Linked DNA regions of Homo sapiens: all the other regions are reported to be linked to region 4. The links are microRNA targets in miRTarBase. Many come from high-throughput screens and were not tested one by one. Region 4 holds a microRNA gene; each other region holds the end of a gene's coding sequence.

The links. The annotated mature microRNA hsa-miR-30c-5p reads UGUAAACAUCCUACACUCUCAGC and lies in region 4 at 2,452-2,474, shown strand. An mRNA with a match to its seed (bases 2 to 7 or 8) in the 3' UTR can be bound and repressed. Matches are read on the target gene's strand: a 7mer-m8 pairs with bases 2 to 8, a 7mer-A1 pairs with bases 2 to 7 and ends in A, and an 8mer does both.
Region 1: the mRNA of OTP is a reported target of hsa-miR-30c-5p. The part of its 3' UTR that is shown has no 7-base or 8-base seed match.
Region 2: miRTarBase lists GTF3C3 as a target of hsa-miR-30c-5p. Seed matches in the 3' UTR shown: 7mer-m8 at 2,786-2,792.
Region 3: miRTarBase lists RTN4 as a target of hsa-miR-30c-5p. The part of its 3' UTR that is shown has no 7-base or 8-base seed match.
Region 5: miRTarBase lists PHTF2 as a target of hsa-miR-30c-5p. Seed matches in the 3' UTR shown: 8mer at 1,360-1,367 and 7mer-m8 at 2,104-2,110.
Region 6: the mRNA of JDP2 is a reported target of hsa-miR-30c-5p. Seed matches in the 3' UTR shown: 8mer at 2,732-2,739.
Region 7: miRTarBase lists DDB1 as a target of hsa-miR-30c-5p. The part of its 3' UTR that is shown has no 7-base or 8-base seed match.

Annotation. Positions count from the first base shown.
Region 1 is chr5:77,626,859-77,631,081 of GRCh38, reverse strand. OTP (orthopedia homeobox) reads left to right here. Exons shown (of 3, transcript NM_032109.3): 3 at 288-2,370. The coding sequence ends at 818. OTP-AS1 (OTP antisense RNA 1) reads right to left here and starts at 1,411. Exons shown (of 2, transcript NR_198942.1): 1 at 1,321-1,411. RefSeq lists enhancers at 373-422, 2,180-2,745 and a silencer at 593-1,032.
Region 2 is chr2:196,760,997-196,765,084 of GRCh38, forward strand. GTF3C3 (general transcription factor IIIC subunit 3) reads right to left here. Exons shown (of 18, transcript NM_012086.5): 18 at 2,039-3,689. The coding sequence ends at 3,567. Among named protein-coding and RNA genes, the nearest start is that of GTF3C3, 37 kb to the right of the region's middle.
Region 3 is chr2:54,969,757-54,973,979 of GRCh38, reverse strand. RTN4 (reticulon 4) reads left to right here. Exons shown (of 9, transcript NM_020532.5): 7 at 113-159; 8 at 359-417; 9 at 782-1,791. The coding sequence ends at 824. It overlaps EML6 (EMAP like 6), which reads right to left. Exons shown (of 42, transcript NM_001039753.4): 42 at 1,955-3,909. The coding sequence ends at 3,885. Among named protein-coding and RNA genes, the nearest start is that of RTN4, 79 kb to the left of the region's middle.
Region 4 is chr1:40,754,849-40,759,071 of GRCh38, forward strand. MIR30C1 (microRNA 30c-1) reads left to right here and starts at 2,436; the gene lies at 2,436-2,524. NFYC (nuclear transcription factor Y subunit gamma) reads left to right here. Exons shown (of 10, transcript NM_014223.5): 6 at 3,273-3,446.
Region 5 is chr7:77,953,633-77,957,855 of GRCh38, forward strand. PHTF2 (putative homeodomain transcription factor 2) reads left to right here. Exons shown (of 19, transcript NM_001395272.1): 18 at 137-262; 19 at 1,226-3,593. The coding sequence ends at 1,246. Among named protein-coding and RNA genes, the nearest start is that of DDX3ILA1, 35 kb to the right of the region's middle.
Region 6 is chr14:75,468,630-75,472,852 of GRCh38, reverse strand. It overlaps JDP2 (Jun dimerization protein 2), which reads right to left. Exons shown (of 4, transcript NM_001135048.2): 4 at 1-3,563. The coding sequence ends at 3,378. Among named protein-coding and RNA genes, the nearest start is that of JDP2, 43 kb to the right of the region's middle.
Region 7 is chr11:61,296,322-61,300,430 of GRCh38, reverse strand. DDB1 (damage specific DNA binding protein 1) reads left to right here. Exons shown (of 27, transcript NM_001923.5): 27 at 212-980. The coding sequence ends at 295. Among named protein-coding and RNA genes, the nearest start is that of VWCE, 3.1 kb to the right of the region's middle. RefSeq lists an enhancer at 1-309.

The DNA of each region.
Region 1 (4,223 bases), not on the chromosome of region 4:
GACTGCACACATTTGGTGTGTTTGCACAGTGCGTAAACTCTTCGGGGCACGAGCTCTTAGGAGCGCAGGACTCCGCGCTTGGTGGGTGCAGGGGGCGCCAGTTGCCAGGAGTTGGTGGGGAGCCACAGTCTCCGGCTGGGTATGGGGGCTTGTCGGGCCTACGGCACTTGTTCCTCCCAGGGCAGAGCGGCTGTATCCGAGGCGGGTTTCTGGGGCTCAAGCCCCAACTCCCCAGCCGCCGGGCCGGCTAATAGCTCCCTGTCTGTCTCCCGCCCCGCCCGCTCCAGGTCTGGTTCCAGAACCGACGCGCCAAGTGGAAGAAGCGCAAAAAGACGACCAACGTGTTCCGTGCGCCCGGCACACTGCTGCCCACGCCAGGCCTGCCTCAGTTCCCGTCGGCTGCCGCCGCCGCTGCCGCCGCCATGGGCGACAGCCTGTGCTCTTTCCACGCCAACGACACCCGCTGGGCGGCGGCCGCCATGCCTGGCGTGTCACAGCTGCCTCTGCCGCCGGCGCTGGGCAGGCAGCAGGCCATGGCGCAGTCGCTGTCCCAGTGCAGCCTGGCGGCCGGTCCGCCGCCCAACTCCATGGGCCTGTCCAACAGCCTGGCGGGTTCCAACGGCGCGGGGCTGCAGTCGCACCTCTACCAGCCCGCCTTCCCCGGCATGGTGCCCGCCTCCCTCCCCGGCCCCAGCAACGTCTCCGGTTCGCCCCAGCTCTGCAGCTCCCCGGACAGCAGCGACGTGTGGCGGGGCACCAGCATCGCCTCCCTCCGCCGCAAGGCGCTAGAGCACACAGTCTCTATGAGCTTCACTTAATGCAGCCGCGCCCCGGCCCGCTCCGCCCCCAGCACCGCCCCGGGGGCCGCCCCGAGGCCCTTCCGGCGCGCACCCGGACCCCGGCGCCCTGCCCCGTCCCGCCCCGGCCTTCGCCCCGTCTCGTTTCGTCCTCGCCTCTCTCCTCCACTCGCTCGGGCTCACCCCAAGCCCCAGCCCGCGAGGCCTCCCCTCCGCCTGATTTCGATCGCCCGCGGTCCCCCGTCTCCCGGCCGCCCCTCTTCCCTTCCCACCCAGCTGCGCCCTCGGCTCGGTCTCCAGCGCCTCAGCCCACCCTTCCCGCCACCCTGGCCTCCCTGCTTGCGCTGGCCGTGCTCGCGCCCTCCTCCTGGCCTTCTGACGGGCGGCGTTCCCACCCACACCTTCGACGCGACGCCTACGACCCCCCTCGCCCGCCGCCTCCCCTCCGGTCCCCTCTTTCCCCACACTTCGCGACCCTCCTCCCGCGCCCGGCAAAAAGTATCCTTCCCGCCATTTTACGTACCAGGGAGTCGACTCAGGATCTGAAATCAGACACCAATGGACTGGTTTGTGGGCAGAAACACACACACTCGCACTCTCGCTCACGCTCAGACGCTACACACGCGCGCGCACAGACACGGTGCACCTAGGTCACACACGGACGTGTTCAAGGGACAGCACAATGTTAGGGATTTTTGTCTTAAAGGAGGACAAGCATTGCTACCAACCGCCTCATCTGAGGGCCCAACTGATATGATTTGATTTATCCTTGTACTCTCCAAGCTCCTGTCTTTCTTTCCTCTCCCACCACGCTACCCTTGCCCAGTCCACCCAGTCACATCCGTGCAGCCCTCTCTTGGCTTGCAAGATAACGCTTTTATTTTTATTTTATCTTATTTTCATTTTCTTAAGCACAACTGTGTGAGAGTGTAGAAGGGAAGGCTTCTCAGGAGGAACGTGACAGTGGATTGGGTGGCTGGAGTAGACTAAAGCAGTCATGTGACGAGGAAGAGGTGATCTGACCCATTTTGATAAGTCTTTATAAGGAAGAATAAAATAAACGTGTAAGCAAAATTTTCTTTTGTAAAAGCAAAAGCCACATCTCTTTTCTGGATCCTTCAGGACTGGGGTTTGTTTGCTTCCTTTTCTGTTTCTGTCTTCTCGCTGCTCTGTGCCCTTGGTTGTTTTGTGGTGGTCCTGTCGTCCCTCGTGCCCCTCGGCCACCTGCTGGCAGCCGATGGGGGCACTCGGACATCTACAACCCTGCAACTTTGTACAGAGAAACACAATCAGCTCTTTCTGCATGTGCTGGTCAAATCCAAACCCAGAGAACAGAAGCGCTTTCTAAGAATGAACAAATATGTGAAATAGGATGTTTTGTGTAGATAAAGCATTCTTGTTACATACTGGTCAATTTGTGATATGTTTTAACTTAATGTCTGTGTTTATTTATGGAATTCGGTTTTCTTAATAAATGTTTGAGCTAATATAAAGCATATTATTTGACTTTTCCGGACAAGTTTATATCAAGTTAAATGTAAATGGATAAAATAAAATCATTTTCAGTATGTGATATAGAGAATGATGGGTTTTGGTGTGACCTTGAACGGCGGGAGGGGTCTCGTGGGGGGAGGGGAGGGGCCGGTCTTGGGAATGGTTATATTCGCGCCAGTTGGAACGCGTGGGCCCTTCGCCCTGCAGTGGGCTTGGGTTCGGTTTCTGGGCTGCAAGGTGAGGTCTCCGCGACGGGGCGGCATGCTGGGGCGCCGCGAGCGCCTCACGCAAGCTCTGAGCCTCCCGAGGTTTCCGGGCCAACCCAGGTTTCCCAGGTGGGACTCCGAGCGTCGCTGTCGGCACGAAACGCAGGGCGCGAGAGTTCCTCAGATGAACGGTGTCCCTGGGGCAGTGGCGCGGAGGGCGCCCCTCGCGGGCTGCGTGCGCGTGATGGGGAGGCCGTGGGTGGGAGGGGACCACAATTCGCACCCTCGGCCTTCAGAGCCTGGAGTTCTGCTCTCCGGCGCCGCCCCAGCCGTGTCTGGCCCCAGGTACGCGGTGGAAGCTAGGCCGCGGCTCTTGCCTCCTCCGGGGCCTAGGCCTCTTTGGGGCCTTCCCTAAGGCCACGGCGCCCCTTCATGTCCCCAGACCCGGGATCCGCTTCAGATACCCGGGACCTCCCAAGTAAGGGACAAACGCGCTTCTCCAGAAGAGGCGTGTCCGGGACGACCAGCACCTACCAGGGCTCCCCCAACCCCGGGGCTGCTCTGGTTTCCTGTCAGGGTCCCTGCTGGCTGCGTACTAACCTCGACTTCAGGCACGTGCTCAGGGGACTGCCCCAAAGGAGTAGGAAAAAAATGCCGTTTCTTCGGTCGGCCGAGGGGAAGGTTTGCGGTGTGTTTTAAACTTGGAGGCAAATCGATATCACAGGCTTCCTTGGGAAGGCTAACCGAAATCAATCTTGTGGTTTGAAATTTAATGGTCATTATAGGCATTGAGAGGGCACCCCTTTTCCCACGGGAAGACTTCTCATTTGGTTGCCTCAGAGTGTAAACCCTAAAAAATACCCTCCTGCTAAAATACAATACAGCTGGGCTACATGTGAATTTGAGGAGCTGTTGTAATCGTTACTCAACTAAGAGAACACAATGGAATCTCCTCAGAGATGAGAACAAAAAGCTATGATTTTTAATGATAAAGTAAATCTGTTCATGTTACCTTAGGAATTTTAATTAGAGGTAAACTGGTGGGTGGGTTCACAGAATATTTCAGTTATACACTTTCCTAAAGACTATTTTTAGTACATTAAAATATTAAAGAAGAGAAAACATGCTCATTTTGAATTTCATACAAGAACGGAACATTTCTGTATTTGAGAACTCATCCAAGAATTCAGCAGCACACAACCACCAAATTTCTAAAATATGAGTTAATGAAAAATACTTTTCCTTGTTTTTGCATTTCATCATATTCTCGCTTGTTTTATGTTAGTGCTTTTTTTTAAAAAAAATTGAAATCGTGGATACTGTAATCTCAAGTCACATTTAAGAGATCAGTACAAATTACGGATTGCTTCACCAGTGCTCATGGAATGTTGTTTACAAGGATGCCAATTTTACAGCTTTTTATGCTGCTATAAAGCATAACTTTATGATGTAGGAATGCAATAAAGGATGCTAAATGGAATCTTTAAAAATTGTATTTCTCAAAGGCAAGGGAAATGGGATCTTTCATTGGAAAAAAATGGGCCAACTCAGAACACTGATGAGAAGTTGCAAATCAACTCAAGTGATAGATGCTTTCAAAGATACTTATATTTCATAATGTAGTGGTTATTTATCAATATTATAGTAAAGTGTACAGAGTTTTTCACTTGGCTTGACTCTGGGCTAATATTTGTTTCTATAGCAATAATAGATTTTTGTATTCAGA
Region 2 (4,088 bases), not on the chromosome of region 4:
GCCTTACCATGCTGGGCAAGCAGACCCCAGTTCAGTTTAATAACATTGTTGAGATTTTTCATTAATTCATTAGTATTGGTATTTATTATAACTTCTAGTTTCCCTCCATGCAAATTTGACCATGCCTTATATTGTCACCTAAGTCGTTAATGAACATGGTGGCATGTCATTTGCAGTTTCTCTCCAGTCTACATCAGTCTGTCAACATGCATTCTTTGAGTTCGGTCATTCTACCGGCTGAAGAACCAGCCACACTTTCCCATTCAATCCATAAGCATATCACAGCAGTCTTCCTCACAGACTCTGCTAAAACCCAGATACATAAAATGTAAGATAGTCCTCAGAACCACCAGTCTAGTACCAAGCAAAAAGAGTGTATCTCCTAAAAGATTGAAGTGGAAGTTATTATAGAATCAAGGATATCCTGATCAAAGAATCAAAGAATCTATCTGGATTCTAGAATGAATCCAAGGGTGAGAAGGCAGCTGGCCTTTTTGCTTGGAAAAAAAGAGTAAGTATCCTAAGGAACATCACTTCAAAGAACACACAGATGGCTGGAATCATGCCAGCACTAACATGCCCAAGTGGTTTCCAGAATCCACCTTTTGCCCACTTAAAAAATTCAGTTCATTTGGTCATTTTCTTCTGAGAATGCCTCAAAATTCTAATTTGCAGTTTCATAGCATAGCCATTAGTATAGGGACTATGGGCCTGGAGATGCAGTTCATTTCTAGTCCCCCCTTACTCATATCCTCACCCAATATCTTGGCCATTAACTCCTTTCCTACCCTGTTCAGTATTATGTTGGAGTATATATTCTTTCAATATGAACTATAGTATTATAATACTATTAGCTTTACAACACCACAGCAGGAACATTCCTCCTGTTCTTGCTCTGAATGATTTTGAAAAGCCTGTTTATTGTGGATTAGACTTCGTGACACTACTTGTAATTCAGCAACAAATTTTTATATTCATTTCTGTTTGCTTTATACTTTCTTCCTATGAAAATGGCTAGAAAGCAGTAATGCTAAATTAAAAGAAAGATGGAATGGTGGTCGATCAGGTCAAAATTTTTTGTATGTGCATTTAACAGAAAAACCCAAGCTGGTGTAAATATTAAAGTGGAAACTATAACAGAATCAAGGCTATCTCCTAGAACGAATCCAAGGGTAAGAAGGCAGCTGGCCTGAGGATAGAACTGAAAACTGGAAATCTCTGGGACTTCAGAGAGAACTCTCCTTCGCTCATCTTTACTTCTCTTAATGCAGACACCTCACTTTTTTTTTTTTTTTCAACAGAACGGGTTAACTGCTAGTTGGCCTCATTGTTCTGAAGTTCTGGCCCTACATGAACTATTTCAAGTCTGAAATTCCCAGGGAAGGCGGGAGGAAACTCCTGATTGGCCCAGGTTGGTTCAGGAGCAGACTCCCTCCTCGATCAACTGTGATCATGCAGGAGCAGCAGAGTCTCAGTGCATAAAACAGGTACCAGGACCCCACTGCTAAGGTGAGGATGGGAGGTAAGAGAATAGGAGCTTTTAAAAAGAGACCCCAAAAGATGTTTTTATACAGGGGCTTTGATGGGCTGAAGGCCTGGAAGACAGAAACACTGCCAATGTCTTTTTTCTTTCTAAAATAAACTTATGCTTGGCTGGGTGCAGTGGCTCACACCTGTAATCCCAGCACTTTGGGAGGCCGAGGCGGGCGAATTACGAGGTCAAGAGATCGAGACCATCTTGGCCAACATGGTGAAACCCTGTCTCTACTAAAAATACAAAAATTAGCTGGAGGTGGTGGCAGGCACCTGTAGTCCCAGCTACTCGGGAGGCTGAGGCAGGAGAATCGCTTGAACCTGGGAGGTGGAGGTAGCAGTGAGCAGAGATCATGCCACTGGACTCCAGCCTGGAGACAGAGTGAGACTCCGTCTCAAAAGAAAAAAAAAAAACAAACCTTATGCTTAATGTTTGTTGTTACTCTGAACTACAGCAACTGTGTTCTTCTGAAGGAAAATCTCTGAGCAAGGAGCAGCTTACTAGTGATCTTGAACATGCTATTTAATCTCTAGATACAAAGTGGTGATGACAATATCAATAATAACTACCTTGCAGTTCCCTGAGAGAATCAGAGATAACATATCCAAAGTGTTTAGCACCATACTTAGCATACAGTAGCAGAGTAAAAACTCAGCAAATGGAAGCTATGATTTTAAAAGCTAAACAAAACTATACAATATCAGCTGGTTTTTTTTTCCCTTAGGGAGACTTATTTCCTCCACGGCTATTTAGTAGACACTGGAGCCACAGTCCAGTGAGCTAATTTAAGAGAGAAACTCGGAGCACAGAATGCTCAGTTCCACAGAATTCCAACACACAAGTCTAACTTATTACTGTATCTCAGTTACCTCTACCATTACCTATAAATGGCATAAAGTAAAAATTAAGCATGTGAAACAGTTAACCTCAATTATAAAAATAAAATGCATTTAAATTATACACATGGAGTATACAATATATTTACTTATTGCATACAAATTCTGCTCAACTAGAAAGTTTTGTGTACAGTAGAAACAGTGGTAAGAATTTCTAATAAGTCCCAATTTTATTTCTTTGATCCTAAGCCTCTACTTGTTTCCCTCCCACAATTGGGCTGGGTGTTACTAACCCATGTGCACATTAATTACAGCATTTATTTTTCCCTAAAAAGTTGTTATTAAGCTAACAGTATATCATCTAAAAAGTACTGTTAACTTAAATTCAAGAACATATAATAAATAGTGGAGATGAGTAAACAAACAAAAAAAAAGTTTTTTACTTTATCAATCAGCAGTATGTCCTTTATTCCATACGTACTACTTGCCCAGTCTTATATTACTTGTGATCTTGAAATGGAAACCATGTCCTGTTATTGAACAAGCTCTTCTCTATTTTTTCATCAGAAAGCCACAAATATAGATAAAGCATTTTTTTATTTGCCTTGGAGCAATATATTTTGAATTAAGCCCAGCCTCCCATGTTTCAGTTTAGGTAGCTAAGATACATGCTGGTGAAAAGTAAAAAACTAAATTATTTGTCTTTCTGCCTACCACATAACTATTTTAAATAATTTTCTTAGGTGCTTAGTTATCATGGTCATGACATCATAAAGAGTCCCACTTTGTCTTTCCTTTAATAATAAGCAACCTCTGTTTATACGTATTTGAAAAACTGCCTCATGTGATATTGACAGAGCTATAGTATTAAATACAAAGATGAATAAATGGTGTGAGTGAAAAATAGTGTATTCGACTCCAAGCTAGCTCAAAGGCTTACACGTCCATTTCAACATTGGGAACAATTCACTATAGAATGTGAAAGGAAAATGACAGACCAATATACAAATTTTTGTAGGAATAATTTTGCATATATACCACAAGATCATTATCACATATTAAAAATAAATACACTGTTTGTTAGGTAATTCTGAAATTGTCATTTCTATTTTGGAGTTACAAATAATAAGCCCTGAGACAGAAGACACTGGTCCTCACACAGCAGCTGCCATTGCTCTGTTCTCAGTTGCGGTGCTTTATATAGAACAATAGGTATACAAAAGCGTTTGAGCCATTCCGGTATTCCCACTGCTCTGATAGATGAGAGACAAGTTGTAGGCAATATCTCTTCGTAAGTCTAACTGGTCAAGTTCTATACCCTAGGGAGAAAAAGATACCTTTATGTTTAATATTTCCAACTGTCAACCGGGACAATTTTATGGCAAATTAATAGTTTTATAAGTGTAAGTAAGTTTTCAAAAGGTATTAAAGCTCATGTACTAAAAAAAAATTATAAAACTATGCATATACCTTGGATCAATGCTGATTCAGTTAACAGCATCATCAAATATTTTAACAGTAATTTAAAGTCTCACCCACAAGCTACGGCAGAATAAACGCCAGATGAATTTTGGATTTTAGAGTTAAAAAAGAAACCATAAAAGAAAAAATACAATGGGATAATATAATCTTGGATAGGAAAGGTCCTTTTTATGATAGCAAAAGTAGCAACTATAAAGGGAAAGATTGGTATGACTTCATAAAAAACTTCTCTGTGT
Region 3 (4,223 bases), not on the chromosome of region 4:
CATTAGGAACACTGCTTGGTTATCTTGAGTTGCCAGTTTAATAGTTTTTTGAGTGTTTATTCCTCCCAAATCATTCCGTTCTTTTTGAAAAGTTGTATATTTCCCTTTTCAGCTCTCATTTCACTCTTCAGTGTTCCTGTTATTTATGAACGGCATCAGGTAATTTCCTAACTAACTGCTGACTTCAGAATAGAGCACTCACTCTATTACATGGGATTTACGGATGTATTAGTGCCCATTTTCAATGTCTTACAAAAATGAGAAGTGTGATGGTTTCTTAAGCCTTTAGCTTGACACATAGTAGTGGTTAATAAGATTCTTTAGCAACGGTAATAATTCCTTTATACCTCTCTTTCAGGCACAGATAGATCATTATCTAGGACTTGCAAATAAGAATGTTAAAGATGCTATGGCTAAGTAAGTATTTAAAATCTGCAGTGTTTTTACTAGGATAAGGTGTGCTGGATTGTGAGAACAGTATTTTCATATTGCAGGCATAATGAGTAACAAATCTCTATCAGACCTTAAGTGTGACTTCAGAGTTGCCAAAAGATTGTTTTTCTAACATTTGGACCATTCGTTTCTGGGTTTATTATGTGTTTAAGGCTTTGTTTAAATCTAATTCATGAGGCCAAGGTGGCAAAATTATAGCTTAGAATTAGGCAGCTTTAAGGATTTCATTTATTGTATTAGCTGAATAACATACAAGTAGTTCTTGGAAGATGGTATTTTAAGCAGCAGCAAACAAAACTGATATTTACATTGACTTTTTCATTTTCAGAATCCAAGCAAAAATCCCTGGATTGAAGCGCAAAGCTGAATGAAAACGCCCAAAATAATTAGTAGGAGTTCATCTTTAAAGGGGATATTCATTTGATTATACGGGGGAGGGTCAGGGAAGAACGAACCTTGACGTTGCAGTGCAGTTTCACAGATCGTTGTTAGATCTTTATTTTTAGCCATGCACTGTTGTGAGGAAAAATTACCTGTCTTGACTGCCATGTGTTCATCATCTTAAGTATTGTAAGCTGCTATGTATGGATTTAAACCGTAATCATATCTTTTTCCTATCTATCTGAGGCACTGGTGGAATAAAAAACCTGTATATTTTACTTTGTTGCAGATAGTCTTGCCGCATCTTGGCAAGTTGCAGAGATGGTGGAGCTAGAAAAAAAAAAAAAAAAGCCCTTTTCAGTTTGTGCACTGTGTATGGTCCGTGTAGATTGATGCAGATTTTCTGAAATGAAATGTTTGTTTAGACGAGATCATACCGGTAAAGCAGGAATGACAAAGCTTGCTTTTCTGGTATGTTCTAGGTGTATTGTGACTTTTACTGTTATATTAATTGCCAATATAAGTAAATATAGATTATATATGTATAGTGTTTCACAAAGCTTAGACCTTTACCTTCCAGCCACCCCACAGTGCTTGATATTTCAGAGTCAGTCATTGGTTATACATGTGTAGTTCCAAAGCACATAAGCTAGAAGAAGAAATATTTCTAGGAGCACTACCATCTGTTTTCAACATGAAATGCCACACACATAGAACTCCAACATCAATTTCATTGCACAGACTGACTGTAGTTAATTTTGTCACAGAATCTATGGACTGAATCTAATGCTTCCAAAAATGTTGTTTGTTTGCAAATATCAAACATTGTTATGCAAGAAATTATTAATTACAAAATGAAGATTTATACCATTGTGGTTTAAGCTGTACTGAACTAAATCTGTGGAATGCATTGTGAACTGTAAAAGCAAAGTATCAATAAAGCTTATAGACTTAAAATATGCTTTGGTATTTTCATTTCATGAAATTGCAGCAGATTAAAAATGCACACAGTGGGTAAACTGCTTCAACCAGCGAATGGTAGCTTGTGCTTTTAGAAGGGTTTTTTTCAGCTGATGGTGCAGCTGTTTGTTTGTTTACTGTGGAAACAAAAGTCAACAAATGTGTTTACATAATCAAATTTTATTTGACACATAAAATGTTTAAGTGATGTGTTTTATACTTTGAAAATAAATTCATGCACCAATGTTTTAACTCACATATATCATACAGTGCAGGATTTATGAACATACATAAAATCAAAATCATACCATATAAACGTTTACAAATAAGTTTTTCATGACACACGGACACTATTGCTCTTTAAATATGGTTGTACATGTCATCATTAATCGATTCATTGTTCTTCCACATGGTTATTTCAATGCAAGATCCGATCAGCATGAAGAGTCTAGTACAAGATAGGCAGACATGGTTATCACTCTGCATCACCAGTCACATGGTTACAGAAAACAGAATTGGGACTGCATAGGGACTCTACTGCGGGCCCAACAACCTATTAGTGGATTGATGTAAGGCATTAGTAAATTGGCATATAAAAATAGCTTAATGAGTGATCTAATCCATTTAGAATGCTGAAGCACTTCTGTGGTAAATGTTAGTCTATTCTACAATTGAAAATGCCTCATTTTACCTTTTCTCTAAACTGACAAATGCAAGTAGCCAGTAACTGTAGGTCTAGAATTTTCGTTCACTGACCAGAAGGACTAATAGGCGTCTATGTGCTCAGAACCACCAGTCCCGCACCAACTCTCCTTTCAGTGAGCACTGTCAGCCACATCCTGTAGTCACTGGTCAGCTACATGGAAAGTGTGACTGAGGGGCTTACGGATGGCTTCTGGTAAAGATTGTCCAAGTCATATTCCGTCATACAACCAACTCCAAGGAACTCTAACTCACTTTATAATTTTGATTTACCAGCTATTCCTTGGGTTTACAATTTGTTCTGCAGATAATTTTTTTATAATCTGGACTTGACCTATATAGTTCGCCTGAAGCAATCAAATGAAGTCACCTCAACTCCACTCAGGGTGGTACACCAAGGTGCAGCCTTGGGTTACCCTCATTTATCTTAAGATTTAACGAGATAAGTCAGCTCATTCTCATAGACCTTCCTGAGCCTTTTTCCCCTTCCATTTTGTAGTAGAAGTTTGTTTAACTTGAATTCTATTTTGGATTTTGTGGGTTTGGCATGAAACACAATGAAAACCCATAATTCTACCCTGTCCCGAACTTCAATTCCTTTGCTGCTCACCTTCCCATAAGCAGGTAACCGATGTCTTTCATTTAGGAAGCCTTGGCGTGAACACAGGACAAGGGTGACACACTGAATCTGCTAAGGGTCCTGCAGCCCTCCTCAGCTTTGAGGTTTTAGCACCATATGGAGAAAGGAGAAATTGGTGGGAGGTGAGACAGCAGCCCACACAACTGGAAACTTTCAAAGGCACTTAATGGATATAAAACTCTGCAAATGAAACATTTAAAAATTAAGTTTCTCAACTCCTTTATACATGGCTCATTTGGTTTTGAAAGCTAAACTGGAGAACAGAGGCTAGCGATATTTCTAGTACTTCGGTGCATCTAACTTAGGCTGTCTTGTTCAACTTATTTGTAAAAATGAACATTCTTGAAGTATATAGAAACAATAGCAAAACATCTTTGTAAAAGTTTTGATGCAAATTAAAAGCTACATATTGGTTAGGGTAACCGAGGCTTCAAAATTCGTCAGCGGGCTACATTATCAGATAGGATTTCTTTGTCAATGTAGTTAGTATGTATACTGTTTAGTCTCAGGAACAGAGGCAAGCAGTCTTTAACATTTTAAAACTTGACCTTCCTTCGTGGCATCACGGTTTTGGAGAGTCCAGATTATGGGAGCAGTTGTGTAACTTCTGCAGCGTTTTGAGCTTGTGCATCCGGGGCAGCATGGTAGGCATTTCCCAACGGCTGGTGGCAAGGAGGCACCTCAGCATGGCCTCTGCAGTTGCTGGCTGGTAGCAGCAGCAGCAATAACATAAGAGGCTTCTGGCATTTTACAGACATCGCCACACAAATACACTGAAAAGGCAGATCAAACAGTCATTTTGCATAGCTGGACATCATACTTGTGTCAAGTGGCAAAAAACAATCTTGCCAAGTGCTCAAAAGTCAAGCTCGGGTGATGTATTGAACATTTTGACTTCAAAAGGTAAACCAGGGATCTTGCCACCAAATTAAGATCTATTGCTTTTCTTAAAAGGTCTGTTTTTTTCAGTTGAGTTCTGTTTGGTTCTTTCAGCAGTTTGAATGTCTGTGCTAAATGTTGGTCCGTGAGGACTTCTGGCACTTTGATATCACACTCTCTCCTGTTACTATTGAAAAGGTTTATCACC
Region 4 (4,223 bases):
CAAAATGCTATGATCCATCTGATTTTAAAGTGTGTCTAGCTGAAACAGCTTCTTGTTGCTTGGATTTAGTTCTTTGTAGGTGTTCGAGGCATTGATTGGCATCGTATTCGGGACAGCTGCTGCCTGGCCTTTGAAAGGTTGAGATTGCTGAAAGCTGGCCTGAAATTCTAAGATAGCATTTTTAATCCTCTGTAGACATGAAGTTTTCCCAGGCTTCAAATTGGCTGGCACCTCCTAAAGTCCTTTAAAACGCCTACTCTCCAAAACCCACCCTTTCTGAAGGAGGCAGCAGTTCACTCTTGCTACTAAAGCGAATGTACTTTTTTCCAGTCAGGGCTGGTTGCACAACACTGTAGAGATGGCCCTAGGATGTGATGCTGCTCTTCTCTGGCACTGTTCGTCAGTCTCAGCTTCTGGAAAGATTCCAAGAGCAAGCCCTGTAGTTGGGGAGGCCACTGCTAAAGTTGAGCAAGTGCCCCATTCTGGATTGATCCAGTCATTAAAGCATTGTTCTGCCACTTGGGGCAACCTCCCACTGCTGGGAAAAGGAACTAGTCAGAAATACTGAATTGTGAGTCCAAGGCCCTGACTTCTCAAAGATACTTGAGAGTTTCGCTTGTTCTTCAGAGAAGCAAGTAAAGATTATTTGAAGGTAGGAGGTAGTTGAGGCCTGACTTCTGCCCCACTAAAGCTATTGAGTTGAAAGTTCCTGCCCATTGAAATGTCATTATCTTTTCACCCATTTCTTTAAACCAAGCATAATCATTTCCTTGCTGGCTTGACCTCCATTGGCAGAATGAGTCTTCATAATGCAGAAGAGCCTTAGATATGCCTTCTTCCATTCCAGTGATTTGAGAACAGTTGTGCCTTGTCCTAACAACACAAACCTAGGTGCCTCCACTTGATTCTCAGTGTCCTAGATACTGTCTAGTTCATAAACAGTTTAAGAGGATGTAGTAAGCAGCATAGGAGGAGCTCTTGTCCTGCTCTCACAGCTTTTGGCAAGAGATATTTTGGGTTCTGGAAGGGGTTTTTAAAGGGTTTGCTTTTTGTCTGACAAAAAGATCATATTCAATACTAGATCAGCTGTAGTTGGGGATAACTGGAGACTAAACAATCACAGGTCACGGCTAGAAAATGCAGGTGTCTCCCTGCTGCCTAGCTTCCTACACAGCTGGTTCTGAGGCTCTCATTCCTGTATACCCTCTCATTACCCAAGAGCTTTTCCAAGTTAGGTCTGGATTTCAGTGATTTGTGCTTTTTGTAAAATAATAAGGGAGATCTCAGTGGAACACAAGTACCTTGAACCTACTTCAATAGCTTTGCAAAGAGCAGTTGGCTTCTGTTTCTTGGCTGCAAAAGGTATCAGTATTTTAGCTTTGCCACAGCCAATACCTAGTTTCCAGGCTGACATTTATTTATAATGATGATAAGTTGGGGTTGAAATTGTTGTGGAAATTGAGACCTAGATGAAAATAAAAGGGAATCTCCTTTTCCTTCTGCCTTAGCATAATCATATTGAGGGTTAAAACTATTTGTGTCTGAAGCACAGACTATATCAACCTAAAAAGTCAGTTCATATATTAACTTAGAAACCCAGAATGTTACAGGTATCTCCCTAAGCTGGGTAGATGGCTGTCAAGTAACCATGTCATGCAGAGACCCATGTTTCTCAGGGGTAGATACTGGCAGTCCTAGTTTTAGTATCCTAGCCCCCAGACATCAGGCAAACAAAGGATACTCAGCTCTGTTCCACAGGGGACACTAGCTGCTTCCTCACACTGTGGCCACAGAGTCTTAGAGGTACCAAAAGAGAGTTTAGAGACTACTTTTTTCTATTGGTAACAGCTGTTGGGTTTAAGAGAATTTGTCATATCAGCAAGTTGGATTCAGAGAACTACTTTCCTGCCTCTAACTGTCTGCCTGTCTAAATCCATTCATCATTCATCACGCACTTACTGAGTGCCTACCTGGGAACGCGGGGGATAGCAGAGAGCAAGAGAGAGCTAGGCTTTGCCCTCATGGTGCTTAACATTTTAGTAGAACAGACAGTTAATTTGACATGCAAGTGCAAAAATGTATACTGTGAGGACAGTACTTTGGAAGCACAGTTGAGGGCACCTAACATAGTGTGGGGATGGGGTCAATACCAGCTTTGTAAATGTTACTTTGGGGAGTTGGAGGCAATCCACAGGGTCTGTGTACATCTAAGAAGTGTCTTTTCCTCTTTTCTGGAACGTGGCAAACTTTGCCCTGAATAAGGACATGAGTAAATTTAGCTAATATTTTTACTCAGCCAGCCCAAGTGGTTCTGTGTTTTTATTGTTTTTGTTGTCCCAGGCAGGGGCACCATGTGTCACACAGGTCACTCCGGATCAGACGCCGTTCTGTGTCAGTGGTCAGGGGCTGATCAACCCTGGACCCTGTGGGCTATAACCATGCTGTAGTGTGTGTAAACATCCTACACTCTCAGCTGTGAGCTCAAGGTGGCTGGGAGAGGGTTGTTTACTCCTTCTGCCATGGAAAACATCAGCTGAAGAAGGAACAGTCTCCACTCCGCAGATCGGACAGAATGCGACCTCCCTAATCAGCCAAGGCAGTACCCCAGCGGAGAGCTGTCCATCAGGCCCCCTGGGTTGCGCTTCTGTGGCTAAGTACAACCAGAACCAGATGTGACACTGGATAGACATGCCCTCAGTGACCACAGAGCTTTCAACAAGCTGTGAAAAGCTGGGTACTTGCCTACCAGTGCTCTCGATCCTGAAATTTCAGCTCAGGAAAAGCCCTGTTTCCCATTAACCTGTTCTGTCCCCCTTGAAGTGGTGGGGCTAAAACGAGAAGAGTGCTGCCTATTTGGGAGATTGGGACCAGGCCTGAGAGGCATGATGTTTGGGTAGCATCTTCCCAACACTTGCAATTAGCACTGTTCTCAGATCACAGGCCTTGACAGCATTTACTGACAAGCACTGCTGGTGTGTGGTTTTTAGTTACGGTACTTATTTGCCCGTTTGCAACTTATCATGCAATGGGTGATTATTTCGTACTTCAGAAATTGGCTGTATGTTTTGTGAAGCCTATAGGATCTGTTATTTTTAGTTTGATTTAGCATAACTGGTCTCTTTGAATTCCACTTTCCTTTGGCTTCAAATGTGGAGAGCTCAGCATTCAGCAGGCAACTGCACATAGCCTGTTTGGGGGAAGAGTGGAAATTCACTGTGGCGGCTGCTGAGTTGGTTCTTTTCCTCTTACCTGCCTCTCTTTCCACCCAACAGGAGGAGGTGCGCCAGTCTGTAACTCCTGCCGAGCCAGTCCAGTACTATTTCACGCTGGCTCAGCAACCCACCGCTGTCCAAGTCCAGGGCCAGCAGCAAGGCCAGCAGACCACCAGCTCCACGACCACCATCCAGCCTGGGCAGATCATCATCGCACAGCCTCAGCAGGGCCAGGTCTGTGAGCTGCTGAGGATGCCCATCCAGCAAGACAGTGCCCCTTAGGTTTTTGGATGGGCAGAGCTTGATGAGGGCAGAGAGGCAGCCAGATCATTATAGAGCACTGGATTTAAAGTCTGGAAACTGGAACTTTTCCCCAGATTCAGCTACTGGGGTGAGATGTTACCCTAATCTCTCTGGACCCTGTTTTTCTCAAAGGTCAAATGAGGAAAGTGTACTAGACAGTATGTTCTCCAGGATCCCTATTAGCTCAGAAATTTTAGAAGGGAAAAAAAAATGTCTGAAATGCCTTATGAAGAGTAGAGGTGCTAAAGTGAACTCCATGCCTGCTGTCTGTGTGTCTGTGTGAGAAGTGGAATTTGTGCCCTTAAAGGGAGAGATTAGGTATCATTGCCAAGTTGCATACTCCTTCTCCCCGTCATTTCTCTGTCCCATATTTGTGTTAAGTGACCTTCTCTTTTTACGATAGTAATCAGAGGACTCTTTCTCTCCCCAGTAGTAGTGTTAAGAGCAGTAGCATTCATGTTTGTTGGGGGTCATGTGAGGCTGCAGAGAACTCTGTACTATGAGCTCTGAATCCAAATTCTCTGTCAATCATTATTTATTCATCAAACACTGAGCATCCTCTGAGGGTAAAGTTCTGTGCTATGTATTGGGGATACAAGCATGAATAAAACAGTCCTTATTTTCAAGGAATTCACAATTTAGTTGGGGATACAAATACTTAAAGGTTGTACCACCACGTGGGAATGTGTACAGGGTGTTAAAGGAACA
Region 5 (4,223 bases), not on the chromosome of region 4:
AAGTTTATCCTTTCTAAAAGCATCCATAATTGGTAACTTTTTTGAAAGTGTTTTTTAATTCTCATTGTATATTGTTCTGAATTAGCTTAGTAATTCTTTTTGAATCTGGGACTGACTTTTTTTTCTCTTCTGCTAGGAGTTGGACAGTCCTTTTAGATTATATGGGCTTACAATGAATCCGCTGCTTTATAACATCACCCAGGTTGTTATCCTGTCAGCTGTTTCTGGTGTTATCAGTGACTTGCTTGGATTTAATTTAAAGGTAAGAGGTTGCAAGTACTTTTTATTTCTTAGTTTCCTGTTGCATTTTTGTTGCGCCCATTTTACCCTCACATGCACAGTAATGCGGTCATTTTGGTAAGATTGCAATTATTGAACATTTCACATTTAATTTCAAAGAATTATATGTATTTATGTTTTATAATACTGCAGGAATTTCTAACTTGGAACAGTATTTATTATAAATAGAAGTCTTGTGTAGGATAAGTAGAAGTATTTGGTTTTTTTTATTTTTTATTTTGAGATGGAGTCTGCTCTGTTGCCCAGGCTGGTGTGCAGTTGCGCGACCTTGGCTCACTGCAACCTCTGCCTCCCGGGTTCAAGGATTTCTCCTGCCTCAGCCTCCCAAGTAGCTGGGACTACAGGTGTGCACCACCACGCCTGGCCAATTTTTGTATTTTTAGTAGAGACAGTGTTTCACCATGTTAGCCAGGCTGGTCTCGAACTCCTGACCTCAAGTGATACACCCACCTTGGCCTCCCAGAGTGCTGGGATTGCAGGTGTGAGCCACCGCGCCTAGCAAGAAGTATTTATTTTTACTAATAAAGCTTTAATTTAGGTGATAAAAAAGAAAAAAGCCTTATTTCTATTTTTGGCCAAAAGTTGTATTATTTATCTGTATAGCAATGCATACATCTTCCAATATATGCACAACTAACTGTTAGGAAGGTGTAAGATAATCATATTAAACAAGTACTGTGTATATATATATATATATATATATATATATATATAGCCACTTCTCAAGAGAAAGCAATAGAAATCTGATTTTCACATTTTTGTTTGTGTTTAAGGTGAGTTCTTCTTAAAAGGATAAAGGAGTTAAAATATTAGAAACTGCACTTGTTTGTGAATGAAATTTGAATTTAAAAATGGTGTTATATGATATAATTTAAGCTTTGATATTAAAACTGGCTTGTCACCACTTCTATTTTTTTTTTTCTAGCTATGGAAGATTAAGTCATGACAATTCAAAGAAAAGAAGATGTAGCCTCTTTTCCAGAATAAGAGTACTGACTAAGCTGCCTGAAAGCTTGTCACTGATTCTTTGCTTCAGGAGTCTCAGCTAGGGAGTTGAAGTGTTTACATCAGACTGTCTTGTGCAATTCTTATATTTATTTTACTGGTTCACTTTTTTTTACATTTATTTTAGTCTTTATATTTTTATTTTTAAGCATTGATGTACTTAGTTGTTGAAAGGGTGATGAAACTGATATCCAGATACTTGAGATCCTGGTAATTGGTCATAAATAATTGGCAAAATAACAAATTGTGAAAATAGAAGCCATTGCTCAGCACCGTTTCTCCATCAATGCCGTGAACTTGCCTTACTTGAGGAAAAATTCTTTAACTTTGGAATATTGCATTGAACTCAGCTATACACATAAAACATTTTCTTTGGTAAATCAAGATCCAGTCAGGGTTTCTCTTGAATTATTTTGGAACAATGCCAGGATCCAAACTGATTAAGTTACAGTTTAAGCACCCTTCAGTATTAATATATACGGTATTATATAACAGGTCAACAAGTGCTCTTTGATGATAAAACTTGTAATAGAGCAATAATTGTAAATGGTTACCATACTGTAAGATATTTTGATAAAAATTAACTAGTAATACTTGTATTTATTTGAAACACTGGGCTGTTTGCACAGCTCCAACTGTGCATGCTCAAAATGTGCACTTTTTAAAATTGTTACTTTTAATGCGTATCTTTATATGGGATCTGTTATAGTATACTAGGGCATGATATGGTATCCTTTTGAGTGAGGTATATACTCATCTCACAAGTGAAGTGCCTACTGATATTACTAAAGTACATTATGTTTACTCAAGTAAATAATTTTCTCCCCATGGTACACTCTAGTGTAGGCTATTCATACCACACTGAAATGAACAACTGAAGAATAAGGCTAAGAACCAATAAAATATTTCTCTAATTGCTAGTTGTAAAACTGTATCCAAATTTTCAGAAAAGACAGCTTCAGCTTGCAAATTCTATCCTCTAAACTTATCTGGTGCATTCTCCCCACCCCACCCCCATTATATAAGGGCTATTTTAGATGCTTTTAACCTCCCCAACAAATAATTTGCCAAGTGTCCAATGAGAACTTATCATGTTGGTGTGTTAGGTAAATCGGGCAAATATGATAGTGTCTTACATTGGGCCTTGATTTTAAGTTGTTATATTTGTACAATCGAGTATTTTAGAAATTACATGAAACATGAAACAGTTTTTGCAATTTTTTTTAAACTGGGCATCTGGTTTCTAAAAATTTATTTGAAACAATCTAGAATTTTCTTGGTGCAAAGTGTATCATGTGGAATATCCTCATATTTTTACCATATTTTAAGAACTTTAAGACGATTAATTGTAAATAATTTATTTGATTGGTGCAGTTCTAATCCCTAAATCATAATCTTAAAATCAGGAATGTGTGGAGAACAGAGCCATGTCATATCACTTTGCTCTTACCATTCCTTTTGATCAGCCTCAATTCAGCCTCATTGTGTAGTATGTTTTTTCTTTCTATGAAAAACAACAGAAAGCATTTCATTTTATTTGCCTATGTTCAAATATGTTTAATAATGACCAAAGTGCATTCTGAGTTTTTTCAAGGAATGTAATACTGGAGCTTTAAGAACATACTTAGTTTCTCATGTGAAAACTTAGGCTTTGTCTGATGTTTTTCCTTCCTCTATTGTCTAATGTTGAGGTTGTTTTTAGGAATTATGTTTTATAAACTTTTTCAATATAAGGTACATGCCTATACAGAACTTAACATTTTGCACAGAATATATCAAATATATTTTGAGAAAAAAAGTACGGCATGAGTTCTGTTAGGAATAAAAGATGAAACTATTGTATCTCACAAAAAATCTTATTTCAGAATGGAAATATTTTTGAGAAAAGTAGCTGAGTATACTGGTTTAAGAAAATGCTTGTTTTAGATTGAGGTTAACTTAGAGTTGGGAGTTGATTTATTAAGTACAGTATACCTCTCAACAGTTTATAAATAATATGTTGAATTATGTCAGTGTGGGCAGCAGTAGAATACTAAAAGGAAAATGTCATGTTAAGCAATTTCAGAACATTAACTGAACTATTTTCAAAGCAGAAAAATTGACATTGCTGCCTTTAAGAATACCATGAATGTAAGAAATTGAAAGAAATTGTAAAATATCACATAATATAGAAATGGCAGTTCAAAGAGAATTGTGGCAGATGTTGTGTGTGAACTGTTGTTTCTTTGCCACATGTGTTGTATTTGAAAGTTTTACAGTAAGTTTAAAATAAAACATTCTGTGACTGACGGTGTTTTTTTTTTTAATTTTCAGGTCATATACATTTCTATGGTAATTTTGTGTTTACTTAACATAAAATTTAGTTAGATTTGGGGGGAGTGAAAATAAATTTTTTATAACTTTCCAACATTTTAGATTTTGTTATGATTCTTAGAACATGAAAGAATAATACACAGGTTTTTCATCACCAAAATGATATTATATCATTAATGTTTGTTTGCTTCTTTGTTTTTGAATACAGCAAACTGGCTGTGGCCTGAAATATTAAAGCTCATTGTGAAAAGATAGTGGTTTTTTTGGTTTGTTTGTTTGTTTTGAGACGGAGTCTCACACTGTCACCTGGGCTGGAGTGCAATGGCACAATCTTGGCTTACTGCAACCTCTGCCTCCCAGGTTCACACCATTCTCCTGCCTCAGCCTCCTGAGTAGCTGGGATTACAGGCGCCCACCACCACGCCCTGCTAATTTTTTGTGTTTTTAGTAGAGATGGGGTTTCTCTATGTTGGCCAGACTGGTCTCAAACTCCTGATCTCATGATCTGCCTGCCTCGGCCTCCCAAAGTGCTGGGCTTATAGGCGTGAGCCACTGTGCCCAGCCGATAGTGGTGTTTTTAAACAAATGATTTTGCCACATGAATT
Region 6 (4,223 bases), not on the chromosome of region 4:
TCTGCGATCCCAGGCATTCATCACACCATAGGGACCACGTACAGGGTCAGAACACAAACTTGGCAGCCCATCTTTACAGAATAAAACATATTTAAATAACCTGTACTATGTAGATATCAATAACTACCGACACTAACAGAGGACAAAATAATTACCATTTTAGGGAGCTTTTATTTCACAAAACACTTTGTATATCCATTCCTTTTTTGATCTTGATAACTCCATAAAAAGACTTGGATTATTACTGTTCCCACTTCACAGATAAGAAAAATGAGGTTCACAGCTAGTCAATAGAAGATTACATCATGAACCCGTTTGCCTTTAAGGTGTGTCTTCTGTGAACACCCTTGGAGATGGTTTGCCTGAGACTTGGGAATTCTTAACATGTACTGTGAGCACAGGTGGGTCTGTGCCATCTCTCCCGGCTTCCTGCACAAGTTCCCTGGCAACTGAGGTCACACCACAAACACATTTTTCCTCTCATGGGGAGGCTCAGCCTCAGGTTTTATGCACCTGAAGTCAGACTGACAATAACATCTTGGCTCTGCCACCTAACACCTGTGACCTTGGGCAGGTTACCTCTTCTGTGTGCCTCGGTTTTCTCATCTGTAATGTTGGAACGCTAGCACCTACCCCCCAGTCAGGGTGCACAAAGCAGTTGAGGTCACACATGCACAGTGGCAGGTGCCCAGAAGAAACTCAAATGCTGGCTCTTGCAATGAAGCCTATAATTGTGACTTCTAGCCACAGGAGCAGCCAGTGGTCCTGGTGAGGAAGGCTCCGCACAGCACAAGTCACTGGTGTGGTGACTTTGGAAGACAGCCCACCTGCACAGGCTAAGGAGGCTCTATTTTGGAGATGCCAGCTCCCGGTGGCCAAGCACAGGACCAGGGAAGCCACAGCCAGTGGCACACGGCAGTCCTGTAAGAACATCCACTAGGTCACTGGAGGGACCCTGGTAAGTCCACTTCATTTTTCTCATGGCTTGAAAAATATCAAAGGATTACAGCGCGAGGGGTTCCTGATGCAGAACTGACACTGCCTCACCTGCATCGTCCGGACCGACAGCCTCAAGACCCCCGAGACAGAAGGCAACCCGCTGCCACAACCTTCTGCCACAGCTGACAGTGAGAGGACCAGGTCCTGTTTCTAGGGCGGGGTGCAGGGGAGTCCACACCAAGTGTGTTGGGTGGAGGGAAACTGAGAGGAGTGAGCGAGGGAGGGATCACAGGTGTGTTAATCACCATTCTCCACTTCTGCCCATCCCAGAAGGCCTCGTCCACAATTTGGGAAGCAACCCAGGTTCACTGCTGTTCTTGACACGAAGTCATCACCAGCAACTAGTTATCCTAAGTCCAGGGATGGAGGAGAAAGAACACATGATTAGAATGCAGGAGTCAAGTTTAGTTGGGTAAACTGTAGCCTTTGCAAGCTTCAGTATACAAGGAAGCTAAAAACACCTCTCCCGCCTTCCTCATGCGTGACATGCCTTGAGAACTGCCGAGTGCCAGGTACACAGCAGGCACTGAGTGAATGCCACTGAGCTGCTCCGGCCCTGGGTGGCAGGGATTCAGCTGTCGAGGTGAGGGGGCAGAGAAGCCATCCACACCCTTCCCTGGGTCAGACACACATTGACCAGGGTAGTTGGTTCACTCTGTGATCATGGGACAACCTGGAACTCTATCCAGCCTTCCCAGAAACTAAATCTATAACTGTGGCCTCATAAGCTTCCTATTCAACCATGAGGACAATCATAGTGGGTTGGTGACAGGAGGAGAGTCACAGGCCTCTGGAGGGAGAGTTCAAACACCAGCTCTATCCCTTGCTAGCTGGGTTACCTTGGATAAGTCGCTTACCTTCTCTGAGCCTCAGTTAAACCATCTGTAAAATGAGAAGAATCGTGCCTAGTTTGTGCTCTTGTGAGAAGGGAAGAGACTATGTCTGCTTGTCACAAAATAAGTCTTCAACAAATGGTGTCTGCGAGTTTAATTCCCTGGACCTCTAATTCGCCATCTGTGAATTGGGGACAAGTGCTGTTCCCTGGCAAGGCTGCCATGAAGACGAAATGAGACAACTTATGGAGCAAGCACAGGATTCACTCCTTACTGGAGGCCCCACAAGGGCAAGACTTAGGTCTGTTTCATCCTCCAGTGAATTCTCAGGGCCTGGCACACACAACAGGCCCTCAGAAAACATCTGCAGAGTGAGCGAACACTCTGACTGCTCTCAAAATAGTAACTGCAGGTGGCTTAATGTCTCTGAGCCTTAGCTTCCTCATCTGTGAAATAGGAGAGCTGTTGTGAAAATGAACAGGCCTATAGCAGAGGCTCCAAACAGTCTCCGACCCTGAGAGGGCCTTGCACCCATTCCCCAGGCAGACACCACGCAAGGCGGCTATGTAAGTAAGAGCAATGTTTACTGAGCGATACAGGACTGAGTACTATGAAGGGTTTACAAGGATGGAAATGCACCCCGCCCCCGCCCTGGCCACCCCCGACACCCAGAGACTACAGTACTTAGGAGTTACACACAACGGCCGTAACTGGTGGCTATCTGTTCATAACAAACAAACCATAGCATATTTATACTGTATCACATCGAGTGATTATAGAAATCCATATATATATTGCTTGTATAAAATCTTTTTTTTTGTAAAAAATATTAAAAAAAAAAAAAAAAAGGAAAGTATAAAAAACATGTGCAGTTGAAAGCCCTGCCAGGACAGCCAGTCTGTAAACATTCGGTGAGTATGTGCTTTGGAAGGGCGCCCGCGCCTCAGTGCCCACAGCAAACTCCAGCAGGGCTGGCGAGGGTGCGCCCGGCTGCCGCCTCCTGGGCAGGGCCGCGCTGGACCGAGGTGGGTGGGGGCATCAGGGCCCCGCAGCACGCCCCTCTCCAGCTTCGCATCAGGGCGAGGGGCAGGGCTGGGGGCAGGTGGGTTGCAGTTTCATTCTGAGTTCCATCCTCAGCCGCGTTTTGGTTGCAACTCATGGCTTTTCCTGGCTGTTCGGAGGTTCCTTGGATGGGTGCCCTGGTGAAGAGGCCAGAGAAGAGCCCAGGGCTGCCTCGTTGGGCGTCTCCCTGGCCTCGGTGCCTCTGTCCTGCCTCCTTCAAGTGGGGCCCCAGGCAGGACAACCCTACCCGAGGGTCAACTTTGGTCTCAGCGCTTGGTCCCTCTGGGTTTCCTCAGCCCGCTCTTCCTCCTGGGTGGCTGATCTGAGTTTCACAAAAAAGCTCGGCTGATGCTGGCTGTGCTGAACCTCATTGTACAGTTTTTCATGCACCAAAGGAAGGGCCATCTGGGGCCCCCCTCCTCCTCTCTCTTCGTCACTTTTCCTTCTCCTCTTCCTCCTCCTCCACCTCCTCCCAGCCCATGGTCACTTCTTCTCGAGCTGCTCGAGCAGTGGGTTGCCTTCTGACTCGGGGGTCTTGACACTGTCGGTCCGGACGATGCAGGTGGGGCGGTGTCGGTTCAGCATCAGGATGAGCTGCTGCCGCTCCTGCTTCAGCTCCTCAATCTGGGTCTTCAGCTCTGCGTTCATGAGTTCCAGCCGCTCGGATTCCTGTATACCAACACAGAAGCACGCTGTGAGTTTCACGGGGACTGGCTCTGGGGAGAGGCTCTGCCTGTGGTTAGGCACAGGGCACGCTGGGCTGGCACTGGCCTGTTTTCTGCAGGAAGAAGCACAGACCCTGCTACTGAGCCCCTGGCTAACTGACTTTCTGCAGGCAGTGCCTGCCACAGCGGTGACACTGGCCTGTGTCATGTCCAGGTTATATTCTAGGGCCAGCCAGACTCACGTCCCACCTCTCTCCCCTCCCTCAATCCACCCCAGCTTCAGTGACCACCTTGCTGTTGCTCAAATATGCCAAATACTCTGCCGCCTCAGGGCCTTTGCACAAGAAAGAAAGGGTGGGCAAAGAAAGGAGGCCAGGTGGACCTAGAGCAGGTCTACGGAGCAAGCATGGGGGGGCCCAAGAGGGGACCCAGATGGCAGTGTAACGGCAACGTGCTTTGATGTGTGACAGACACATGTGGGAGATATCTTGGCCGGTGGGATCAGTGAGTGTAGTGTAGTCATGTCATTCCTCCTAAAACATGTGCTTCCTAGCTATTAGTCTATAATTATTTCAATAGCCTCTTCCTTATCCCTATAATCTGGAAGCTTTGCCCACAGACAGGGAATCAGCAGTCATCCTGCTGGATCCCAAATGAGGTTTCC
Region 7 (4,109 bases), not on the chromosome of region 4:
GAAGAGGGAGAATCTTGAAGAGGGAGAAATAGACCAGGTGGTGTCCTTGCTGACCTGTGCCACCCAGGGGGAGGCGTGGGTTTCTGGTGAGTCCTTCCTCTGCCATGACAATGGTGGAGTCTTGTGCCTCCTTCACTGGGGGCATTCCCTTCCCCACCTGTGGGAGAGCACCCTCTTGGTCCTCACAGCCCCGCCCATCTTCTCATTGCAGTATGACGATGGCAGCGGTATGAAGCGAGAGGCCACTGCAGACGACCTCATCAAGGTTGTGGAGGAGCTAACTCGGATCCATTAGCCAAGGGCAGGGGGCCCCTTTGCTGACCCTCCCCAAAGGCTTTGCCCTGCTGCCCTCCCCCTCCTCTCCACCATCGTCTTCTTGGCCATGGGAGGCCTTTCCCTAAGCCAGCTGCCCCCAGAGCCACAGTTCCCCTATGTGGAAGTGGGGCGGGCTTCATAGAGACTTGGGAATGAGCTGAAGGTGAAACATTTTCTCCCTGGATTTTTACCAGTCTCACATGATTCCAGCCATCACCTTAGACCACCAAGCCTTGATTGGTGTTGCCAGTTGTCCTCCTTCCGGGGAAGGATTTTGCAGTTCTTTGGCTGAAAGGAAGCTGTGCGTGTGTGTGTGTGTATGTGTGTGTGTGTATGTGTATCTCACACTCATGCATTGTCCTCTTTTTATTTAGATTGGCAGTGTAGGGAGTTGTGGGTAGTGGGGAAGAGGGTTAGGAGGGTTTCATTGTCTGTGAAGTGAGACCTTCCTTTTACTTTTCTTCTATTGCCTCTGAGAGCATCAGGCCTAGAGGCCTGACTGCCAAGCCATGGGTAGCCTGGGTGTAAAACCTGGAGATGGTGGATGATCCCCACGCCACAGCCCTTTTGTCTCTGCAAACTGCCTTCTTCGGAAAGAAGAAGGTGGGAGGATGTGAATTGTTAGTTTCTGAGTTTTACCAAATAAAGTAGAATATAAGAAGAAAGGTACATTTGTTTTTGCTTTTATTCACCCTGCCCAGCTATCCAGGACTCCAGGTTAACTATTCTTAATTTACTGCGAACTTAGGCAGTATCCTCCCTTTTATGGCAGTTGTTGCATTCACTTGCCCTTGCTGTTAGAACAGCTCTTTTCAAGTAGTGAAAGTGAAGACATCTATACCTCTTCTTCATCACGTGATTGTTTGATGGGATCCCAAGGATGATGGGCTTAGAAATTCACTGGTCTTTTTGGTTGTCCTTGACACCATTTGATTCTTACTTGCCTCTGTCGGTAACCTGCTGGGCCTGGGGGTTGCCTGGACTGCCTTTCCTGGTTTTATAGCCAGCTCTGTGTGCAGTGTCCAGTCATCTAGCCCCCAGGCCACCTAGTAGCTCCTCATGTACCTCCCAGCTGCTTGTTGCCACATGCCCTTTGGACCCTCATTTTGTTTCCTCTGATCTAATCAAGTGAACCTTTGGTGCTTTTGGTTTGAGAATACAGCAGGAGTAGGGCACATATGGGATTCACTCTTCTGTCTGGCAAACAAAGCCTGTCTTCTTTTCAGCTTGGTGGGCCAATGTCTGGGACCACGTTTCTCTCAGTGATCCGGTGGGAAGAAAGGCTGCTCTGTCCCCACGGTGGAGTAGGGTTGATACTAGGCATATTGGTGGCTCCTTTAAGACCAGCCTTTGATACAGTGTCAGGAAAATTGTGGTTGCAAGTTCAAATTGTGGTTTTGAGAGATTCTAGCTTAAAAAGAAAAGAGCTAAGAAGCATCCCTGGTTTGAGGGTCTTCTGGAGGAAGTTTCCTTCCCTGAAGGAATTCCTTGTGTTTTATTACCTTTTTTTCCCCTTACTCTTCTGAGAGTTCTGCGGGTGGGGGATAAGGGTCTTAACAAAAAATAATCAGCCTCTCAAAAACCACAGGTTGAACTGGAAACCCAACACTGTGATTTGAATTCTAGAAGTCATAGTTTGAATTTGAAAGGGCCTGCCCCCCTGCCAGAGGCCAGCTTTAATGAGGCAGGCAAGCAACAGTCTCCACATTGTGATTATTTTAAAAATTTAATCCTAGATGGGAGCGCTGACTATAAGGTGTCATAATCAGAAAGACAGAATGTGGTGGGATGATCATTCTGGGGCACTTTTGTGGTCTGACCTGCAGCTGCTGAGACCTGCTATTGAGAAGAAGGTTGTCAATGACTTGTCTTGAATTTGGAAGCCTGTGGAGTCCTTGCTATGTTTTGCTGATTTTTTGTTTTGTACACTCTTGGGTGTATTCACTCGGGATTGAATTCCAACTTTGGAAACTGATGTTCTGCTGCCATACTCCCACATCCCCTCTTAAACACCATTAATCACCTCTCTAGGGGTGAAAGGTTGTCTTTGGAGCGTGGCTGTAGCCAACTGGAACAGCTCCATTCCATGTAGGCGCTGATGAACTAGCATCACTCCAGGCCTCTGCACGAAGGGACCTTTGGGAGAATAATAGAAACACTGACTCATCACATGACCATTTGAAGGGATCACAAGCCAGAGGCTGTCATTCTGCAGCCAACAACAACTTGGATCCTCCACCCTCGGTGGAGGGTCCCTTTTGTTACTGAGAAACCACAAGCCACAGAAGTGGGAAGAAACACAGGAACTGCAATCAAGGGATATGCCCGAACTAGTCTTGAACAATAGTAAGTTAGAGACTCTGTGTCCAAACTGAGAAACCTCAGGGTCAAACAAAAAGACAAGAAAAACAAAAACCAAACTAAAGGGGAAAATGTTGATAGGAGCAAGGTGAATGCCATAAGGTCACAGAAACTTTATGGGGAAATGAAAGAAATGCCAGGGGCAGTTTGGACGTTGTTTGGAGATTCACTAACAGGAATTTACTGTGTACTAAGTATCCTAAATTCCTTAGGGTAGATGTGGGTTTTCTTCAAGCACAAAGTTGCATCTCAGCTATTCCAGCTGCTCATTGGCCAATATGGAGCAAACTCTGCCAGGGAGTGAGTTTTACAGGGTGAGGTGGAGCAGGTGGGGCTCCATAATGTAGCTAAGAACAGAGGTAGCTGAGGTGTGCTGGAGTGTGAGAAGATGGCATGAAATATGGAAGCCATGTGGACACTTGTTCTGTGTATGCCTGTTGAAAATTTGGGTAGCTCCCCTAGGGCCAGGAAAAAAGAGCACCTATTTGACATTGGTGGTTTAGGGGCAGTGGAGGGGGAAAGTGTAACCTTCAGATGTTTGGGGCAAGAGAGAAAGATGCCTTAGGATTCCGAGGGTCCTTGGGACTCAGAATGGATATGACGGAAATTGCATTCATCTTATGTTACAGAATATTTTGGCTCCTACTTGTTGAGAATATGTTGACAAGAAAATGGGCCAAAACAAACAAGGTGAGATACGGCCTCAAGGTGAATGTCTGCAAAAATGTAGCCACAAGCCGGGTGCGGTGGCTCACGCCTGTAATCCCAGCACTTTGGGAGGCTGACGTGGGTGGATCATTTGAGGTCAGGAGTTCAAGACCAGCCTGGTCAACATGGTGAAACCCCGTCCCTACTAAAAATACAAAAATTACCTGGGCATGGTGATGTGCGCCTGTAGTCCCAGCTACTCGGGAGGCTGAGGAAGGGGAATTGCTTGAACCCGGGAGATGGAGGTTGCAGTGAGCCGAAATCGTGCCACTGCATTCCAGCCTGGGCGACAGAGAAAGACTCCATCTAAAAAAAAAAAAAAAAAAATGGGGCCACACAGCTTCAGGTAGGGAGACCACTTGGCAGCTTGTGTTTAAATAACATAAAAGCACAACAAAAAATGCCTGCTTTTTTTCGTTCTTTTTTTTTTTTGAGATGGAGCCTTGCTCTGTCGCCCAGGCTGGAGTGCAATGGTGCAATCTTGGCTCACTGCAACCTCTGCCTCCTGGGTTCAAGTGATTCTCCTGCCTCAACCTGAGTAGCTGGGAATACAGGCGCCCGCCACCATGCCCAGCTAATTTTTGTATTTTTAGTAGAGATGGGGCGTCACCATATTGGCTAGGCTGGTTCTGGAACTCCTGACCTCAGGTGATCCGCCCACCTCAGCCTCCCAAAGTGCTGGGATTACAGGTGTGAGCCACCGCGCCCGGCCACCTGTGGTTTTT